Linked DNA regions of Homo sapiens: regions 2 and 3 are each linked to region 1. The links come from fine-mapping of genetic effects on gene expression. A gene starts in region 1. Each other region holds a variant in brackets. All regions are shown on one strand. Distances are from middle to middle.

The links.
Region 2: its variant is fine-mapped to the expression of KLRK1-AS1 in blood mononuclear cells (TOPMed, PIP above 0.99).
Region 3: its variant is fine-mapped to the expression of KLRK1-AS1 in whole blood (INTERVAL, PIP above 0.99).

The regions. Positions count from the first base shown.
Region 1 is chr12:10,362,671-10,365,440 of GRCh38, reverse strand. KLRK1-AS1 (KLRK1 antisense RNA 1) reads right to left here and starts at 1,672. Exons shown (of 4, transcript NR_120430.1): 1 at 1,408-1,672. RefSeq lists enhancers at 622-691, 1,152-1,201.
Region 2 is chr12:10,327,909-10,330,678 of GRCh38, reverse strand. KLRD1 (killer cell lectin like receptor D1) reads right to left here. Exons shown (of 6, transcript NM_002262.5): 6 at 1,071-2,770. Among named protein-coding and RNA genes, the nearest start is that of LINC02617, 9.0 kb to the left of the region's middle. The variant T/A (reference allele first, on the strand shown) is at 1,092.
Region 3 is chr12:10,577,624-10,580,393 of GRCh38, reverse strand. No RefSeq gene overlaps it. Among named protein-coding and RNA genes, the nearest start is that of LINC02446, 26 kb to the right of the region's middle. The variant C/AGC (reference allele first, on the strand shown) is at 1,513.

The DNA of each region.
Region 1 (2,770 bases):
CATCGTCTGGGTCCTAGTGGGGGTCTGCTTGTCCTCTTAAGAGGCAGAAGCATAACTTGGGCATGACTTGACCTGAGACGGCCTGCCTACCTTTTTGAGCCTTTCGTTTTAACTTCCTGGAGCTCCGATTTCTCCTTCTCAGGTGAGAGTGGGAGCATGTATCTGTTTGAACTTACCTCCTTAGGGGCAATTAGCCTTGGTAAGGGGGGATAGATTGGAATATAGGTAGGAAGGATCTCTATTCCATCCTGTGATTCTTGCAAAACTGGTTTTCTCTTTCCTGAGACTCTTTTTTTTTTTTGGTCTGCATAGCTTCCAGGGCAGCTGACTTTCACTTTCACTTTTGGATCGGTGGTGCTAGAAGCCTCTGTGACTTTCCCTTTAACTCCGTAGCTGCCAGCACAGTTGGTTTATCTCGGCGTGAGCTGCGAGCATTCTACAATAAACTGCTAGGCAGGGCTGCGTACATTTAGCCATGAGTCAATATAAAGACTAGGTCTGAATGCCCTGGCTGTCCTCCGACCCTAGTCACCACCTTAAAACACACGGCCAATTTCTCTACAGTGCCTTCGGCCAGCCATCTGACACTAAAAGAGGGCTATTGTAATTCACAGTATGTCTTTAACTTTTGAACATCCAGTTTCATCCCACAATCACCTCTAAATCCTTTCTTTAAAATTTTTATCATGCACTCCAAAGGAGTTGGTTTTGACGCTTTCCCTCCCATTTCCTCCCTTGCGGCACACTCTCACTCTCACTCTCACTTTCACTCTCAGGTCCAGCAGACCCGGTCCTATTACAGGAGTTTCGGACACTGCTTAGCCAGGAAGGTGTCTTCCCCTGTCACAGCCTGCTACAGCTGCAAAGCTCGTCCTATCAGCTGTATGCAATGTCCTAGGTCTGATTTCCCCCCACACTCGCCTCAGAGCACACAGCCCGTGCTAAGGGATCTGTGCCTCCCCACGTCACTCCCTGCATTGGCCTCTCCCGAGACCATCGCTTTCACACACTTTCACACACCTTCCTTGCCCCAGGATTCCTCATTGGACGAAATGAGCCTCTCTCATGTCCCGGGTGAGTCTAGTTAGGCTCCCACTTTCACACACATACACCACTCCTACTGCAGGAGTCCTCATCGGATGGAATGAGCCTCTCTCATGACCTGGGTGAGCCTAGTTAGGCTCCCATATTCACACACATACACACACCACTCCCAGTTCCTGTCTCCAGATCCAGTGAACCACTTTCACTTTGTTAGTGGGGACATAAGCTTCATCCAAATTGGCAGGCCACTCCTGCTGCCCCCAGCCACTCTGGGTTGGATTAGTGGTCAGTCCCTGGGAGGTGATCAAGCTCCCCTTTGTCCCTATGGGACGGGCTTTCCTGCCTTGGGCCTATACTCCTTACCACAGTTCCTGAAGTGCTGGTATCGTCCTGCAGCCCCATCCTCGGTTCCATTGCGCTGCCAGGCAGGGTGCTGGGACGTGGGGAGAGCTGGTCTATATATCCGGGTGAAGCTCAGCTGTGGCACACCTTGGATGCCGGGTCTCTCCTGGCCCCGGGGACCTAGTATCGCAGGCAAAGGGGACAGTAAATCTGTCATCTCCAATCCTGATGAGCCCCCAGAAATGTATCGGGATATATAAGGAATCAGAGAGACCAAGGGATTGAGGAGGATATTTATTATTTAGGTGCACTGGTCCACTTGGATTAACATCCAAAGGACTGAGCCCCAAACAAAGAGTCAAGTTACCTTTTAAGCATTTCGTGGGTGGGGGAAGATTTGTGCAGGGGGAAGCGTATAACAGAAGCAAGAAACAAAGACAGTTATTCAATTGAGACATACATGACATCATTTCTTTTCAAGGAAAAACATGTTTTATGACTTGAGTTTATCTGTCTAGTGACCTTGCAGCTGCACAGCTAGAGAAATAGGGTCTTCATAATGCCTGGGAAAGGGAGAGATAAGGCTCACTAGCCACAGAAAACAGGCAGTTAATTTTTAAAGGACTCCGGCTCTTTCTCTTCCTCAGGGGGGAATTGGGTTTTCTTATATACAACTGAGTTTTTGCTTACACATTCTGTAATTTATTTTAATTCCTGTTCCATGCCAGCCACCTATGCTGCTGTTTTCCCCCTCCTTCCCCTTTCCCTAGGGAAGGGACTGGTGGCAGTGGGGCTATTCTTTCTTCCCCCAAGAAGAAAGGAAAGGGGGGTTCTGAATATTTTTCTTACTACTGGGAGTTTGTGTGAGGTTCAACGCCCCCCTCCCATGGGGATTCCTCACCTCTTTCTGAGGTTCAACCCGCCTCATGGGGATTTCTCACCTCTTTCTGAGGTTCAACACCCCTTCTATGGGGATTTCTCACCTATTTTTAACCTCCAAGACATCCCGACTAAGGAATAATCTACTGACCCTGCAGTTTCTCTCTCCTTGGTACGTCCTAACTAAGGAATGCTTTACCGTCCTGTGGCTTTTTTTTTTTTTTTTTTTTTAGTCCCGATCACCAAGGAAATACTTTATTGGCTCCCACAGCTTCTTCTTTCTTGGCCTGTGCACAAAGTTGTCGCCACAGTATGTGAGGATCCTTTAAGCTAGGTTGCTGGCCAGTTTCTTTTTTTTTTTTTTCTCTCTGTGTTGCTGAGAGTCTGGGTTTATTTGTCTCAATTTGTCATTCCTGAGGGCCCCTTCAATGAGGTAGGGGAGTGCACTCCCTCATGAGAGAGGACTGGAGACCACCCCTGGAGGAGAATGTATCCCCATACAGAC
Region 2 (2,770 bases), 35 kb after region 1:
TTAAGATGCAATTAAATTTCATTGTATTGTATTCCAGTTTAGAAATACAGCAAATGTTTTTATATATACATTAAATTTAAAATATATACATATACATACACATAAATTATAAATATGTATCTTATTTTTATATATTTAAATTATAAAATAAATGGTGGAGTAAAATTAGCAAGATGACAGAGTGGGAAGCCCTGGTCTCTTTTCTCTCTACAAATGCACCAATTCAACTAAAAATTCATAGACAAATTTTCTTTGTGGGAAATTAAGAAACTAGTTGAGATGCTCCAATGCTGTTGGTGAAACTACTCATGTTGAAGCCTTAGGGAAATCTAAGGTACACTCCTTCCCTAATTCCTGCCCCCAGCACAGTGCCAAAAAACCAGGGAGAAACTCCCCTGCTCCCAGCTTTGCTCTTGGTTAATAAATGATGGATGGCATGTCCAATTCCCCAATTTTTCCAGGGGCTACTCCTAAGACTGGCTTCTCTCTAGCCTGTCTCAGTGTACTGATAGAACCAAGCATAGCCTGGCTGCGTGGGACCAGCAAGAACATAGATGGTGGGGTGAGCTGGCAGTTTCAACCACTCCTTGGATCAAGATGGAGTGAGTGGACCAAAACCTTTAACTCTCAGCTTCTCCTTGGGGGAAAAAGTTGAACTAAACAACTGATAATCCATATTTTCTGGAGATTGCCTGAGGAGCTAGCTTTATTCCTGTTTATCTCAGAGCACTGACAGGACCTGGGATATTCTAGATGCCTGGAATCTACCAAGAAAAAAAGAAAGCCAGTTGGACTAGCATGAAGGTTGAAGAAGACTGCAAAAATCCTTCGCCAAATAATAACTAAAAGACAACAAAAAATGCCTTTACTGATATTATAAAAAATAGACTTTAAGTCAAAAATTGTCACAAGAAAAAAAGAAGGATATTACATAATGATAAAGGCGTCAATTCACATTGGAGGATACAATAATTTTAAATATATATGCACCCAACATCAGAGTATCTAAAGGTATAAAGCAAACATTGACTGAACTTAAGGGAGAAATAGATAGCAATACAATAACAGTAGGAGATTTCAGTGCTCACTTT[T/A]AATAATGGATAGAACAACCAAACATAAAGGCAACAAAGACCCAGATGACCTGATCAACACTGCAAGTCAAGTCACCTACAGACATGTGCAGAACATTCCATCCAACAGCAGCAGAGTATACATTCTTCTCAAGTGCACATGGATCATTCTGCAGGATAGATCATATGTTAGGTCATAAAAGAAGTCTTAAGAAAATTAAGAAAATTGAAGTCATATCAAGTATCTTTTACAGCATCAAGGGAATGAAACTAGAAATCAGTTGCAAAAGGAAAACTAATAAATATGTGATAATTTAACAATACATTTTTGAACAACCAATCTGCAAAGAATAAATCAAAAGGGAAATTTAAAAACACATTAGAATAAATGAAAACAAAAATAAAGTCTAACAAAACTTATGGGATGTAGTAAAAGTAGGGCTAAAAGAAAAGTTTATAGTGATGAATATCTGCATTAAGAAAAAAGAAAGGTCTCAAACAATGCACTTTATACCTTGATATGGTTTGGCTGTGTCCCCACCCAAATCTCATCTTGAATTGTAGCTCCCATAATTCCCCCATGTTGGTGGAGGGACCCAGTGGGAGATAATTGAATCATGGGGGTGGTTTCCCCCATACTGTTCTCATGGTAGTGAATCAGTCTTATGAAATCAGATGGTTTTATAAGGGGAAACCCCCTTTGGCTTGGCTTTCATTCTCTCTTGTCTGCCGCCATGTGAGACATGTGTTTTACCTTCTGCCATGATAGTGAGGCCTCCCCAGCCACGTGGAACTGTGAGTCCATTAAACCTCTTTTTCTTTACAAATTACCCAGTCTCTCAGTTAAGTCTTTATCAACAGTGTGAAAATGGACTAATACATATCCCAAGCAACTAGAAATGTAGAAAAGAACAAACAAAGTTCAAATTTAGAAGAATAAAGAAAATAATAAAGATTAGTTCAGAAATAAAATAGTGAATGGAAAGGATATATAAAAAGTAAACAAAACTAAGAGTTAGTTTTTGGAAAATATAAATAACTTGACAAACCTTTAGCTAGACTAAGAAAAAGAAGAGAGGCCTTAAATAAATGAAATCAGAAATAAGACATTGCAACTGATGCCACAGAAATATAAAAGATGGTAAGAGACAACTAAGAACAATTATAGGCCAACAAATTGGATAACCTAGAAGAAATGAAAAAATTCACAAAGACAAGGACCTACCAAGACTGAATTATGAAGAAATAGAAAATATGAGCGTATCTATAACTAGAATGAAGATTGAATCAGTAATCAAGAAACTTACAACAAAAAAATTCCCAGGACAAGATGGCTCTTCTGGTGAAGCCACCAAATATTTAAGGAGAAATTAATGGCCATCTTTCCCAAGCTATTATATAAAAATTTAAAAAGAATAAATACTTTCAAACTAATTTTATGTGGCCAGCATTACCATTACACCAAAGCTTGTCAAAGATACCACAAGAAAACTATAAGCCAATATGTCTAGTAAACGTAGATGCAAAAATCCTCAACAAAGTAGTAGCAAAATTAATTCAACAGTACACTAAAAGGAGTATATGCCATAAGCAAGTGGCATTTATCCCTGGGGTGCAAGGATAGCCTAACATACAAAATCAATTAATGTAATATACCACATTAATAGAATGAAGGATAAATGTCACCTGTGCATCTCAAT
Region 3 (2,770 bases), 210 kb before region 1:
CATTAAATCATCTCTAGATTACTTATAAACATAATACAATGTAAAATATTTGGTATACTTTATTGTTTAGGGAATAATGACAATAATAAAAACTATATATATTCAGTACAGATTGGATATTTTTTTAAAAATATTTTCGTTCTGTAGTTGGTTGAGTCTGTGGATGTAGAACTCGTGAATGCAGAGGGCCAGCTGTATTTATATAATTGTTATATCCTCTTGCTGAATTGACCTCTTTATAATTACATAATGACCATTTTTGTCTCTTTTTATAGTTTTTCAATTATAGCCTAGTTAACTGATACAAATACAGCTGCTCCTGTCTTCATTTGGTCTCCACTTGGGATATCATTTTCATCCTTTTACTTCCAGTCTATTGTGTCCTTACAGGTGAAGTGCTTCTCTTACAGGTGAAGTACTTCTCTTGCAGGAAGCATAAAGTTAGGTCATTCTTTAAAAAATCAATTTAGCACTCTATATCTTTTAATTGGAGAACTTAATACATTTACATTCAGGGTTATTATTGATAGATGAGGATTTAGTCCTGACATTCTATTATTTTTATTTTCTAAGTTCTGGGATTCATGTGCAGGATGTGCAGGTTTGTTACATAGGTAAACATGTGCCATGGTGGTTTACTGCACCTATCTACCCATGACCTAGGTATTAAGCCCACCATGCATTAGCATTCTATTATTCCAAGCATCAGATTCACCTGGAAAACACAGCCTGATGAGTCTCACTTCCAGAGTTTCTAATTTTGAGAAACTGGAAACTAGTAGTAAGATCCACTGATATTGACCAGTACATACCCTTGAACTCTTCACTGGCTTGCCTGGTTACACTACCAGAACCAGCTTTGGCCACAGGCCAGCATCCCAACAGCATTTCACACTATTGTATAGGTTTTTTTTTGTTTTATTTTATTTTTTATTGACACATAATAATTGTACATATTTATGGGGTACAGTGTGATGTTTCAATACATGTATACACTGTGTAATGATCAAATCAGGAATCAGGGTAATTAGCTTATCCATATCCTCAAACATTTATCATGAATCAAGATCGGATTCACCTGGAAAACACAGCCTGATGAGTCTCACTTCCAGAGTTTCTAATTCAGTAGTATAGCATGTTAAACTGTGTCCCCCAAAAGGTAGGCTCCAGTTCTCACCCTGAAGAATGTGAACATGACCTTATTTATGACCTTATTTGGGAAAAGGGTATTTGCATATGTAATTAAGGTAAAGATCATGAGATCATGCTAGATTATGGTGGGCCTTAAGGGGTCCTTAATCTAATGATGGATGTTCTTTTAAGAGATAGGAAAAGACACAGAGACACAGAGGGGAATGCCGGGTGAAGACAGAGGAAAATATTGTAGTTATGCATCTATAAACCAAGGAAGTCCAAGAGCATGGCACTGGCATCTGGCAAGGGTCATCCCATGGTGAAGGCATTACATGGAGAGACAGCGAGAGAGAGAGAGAGAGAGAGAGAGAGAGAGAG[C/AGC]TTTTTTTACAACAGAACCACTCCTGAGATAACGATCTCACTCTCATGAGGGAATTAATCTATTCTTAAGATTGAGGTCCTCATGACTTTAATCAACTCTTCAAGGTCTTACCTCCCAATAATGTCACAGTGGCTATTAAATTCCAACACTGAGTTTTGGAAGGAGCATTCAAACCAAAGCACCTCTAATGGTAACATCTTGTAAAATCATGGTATAATATCACAACTTAGTTATTGACATTGATACAAATGCAGAGAGATTCTATCACAAGGCTCCCTATTATTGCCCTTTTAGAGCCACACCTGCTTCCTTTTCTCCATTCCTTGTTCCTGACTCCTTCTCTGTTTCTATAATTTTATCATTTCAAGACTGTTAAGTAAATGAAATCATACGGTCTGTGACCTCAACGTAATTTCCTGAAAATCTATACAAGTTTTTGTAGGTATCAATAATTTGTTCCTTTTATTGCCAAGTAGGTATGGATGTATCACAGTTTGATTACATTTACCTATTGAGGAATATTTTGTTGTTTTCAGGGTTTTTTGTTTTGTTTTGTTTTTTTGCTATTGCAAATAAAGCTGCTATGAACAGGAATAGACATTTTTGTGTGAACATAACATGTTTAATTTATCTGAGATAAATGCCCAAGAATGCAATTACTGAGTCCTATGGTAGTTCGTGTTTAGATTTATAAAACACTTCCAAACTGTTTTCCAAAGAGGCTGTAACATTTTGTATACCCATGAGTGATTCATTTTCTTTGCATACTGGCCATCATTTGGTGTTGTCGTTATTTTTAAATTTTATCCCTCCTGATATGTATATAGTGATGTCATTAGAATTTTTTTTTAAATAGATTACAATTTTGAGCAGTTTTAGTTTTACAGAAAAATTGAGTGGAAAGTACAGAGAGTTTCCATATACTCACTCACCCTCCTCCCAGTTTCTCCTATTAATATCTAGCATTAGTGTGGTGTATTTGTTATAATTGATGAGCTAATATTGATATGTTATTACTAAGTAAAGTTCATGGTTTATATTAGTTTCACTCTTTGTATTTTACATTCTATGGGTTTTGACAAATGCATGACATATATCTACCATTACAGTGCTGTAAAGAATAGGTTCATTGCCCTAAAAATCTCCTATGCTTCATCTATTCCTCTCCTCCTTCCTCTCTCTGAGGCCCTGGCAAACACTGATTTTTTTTTTTAACCATCTCCATAGTTTTGCCTTTTACAGAATGTCATATAGTTG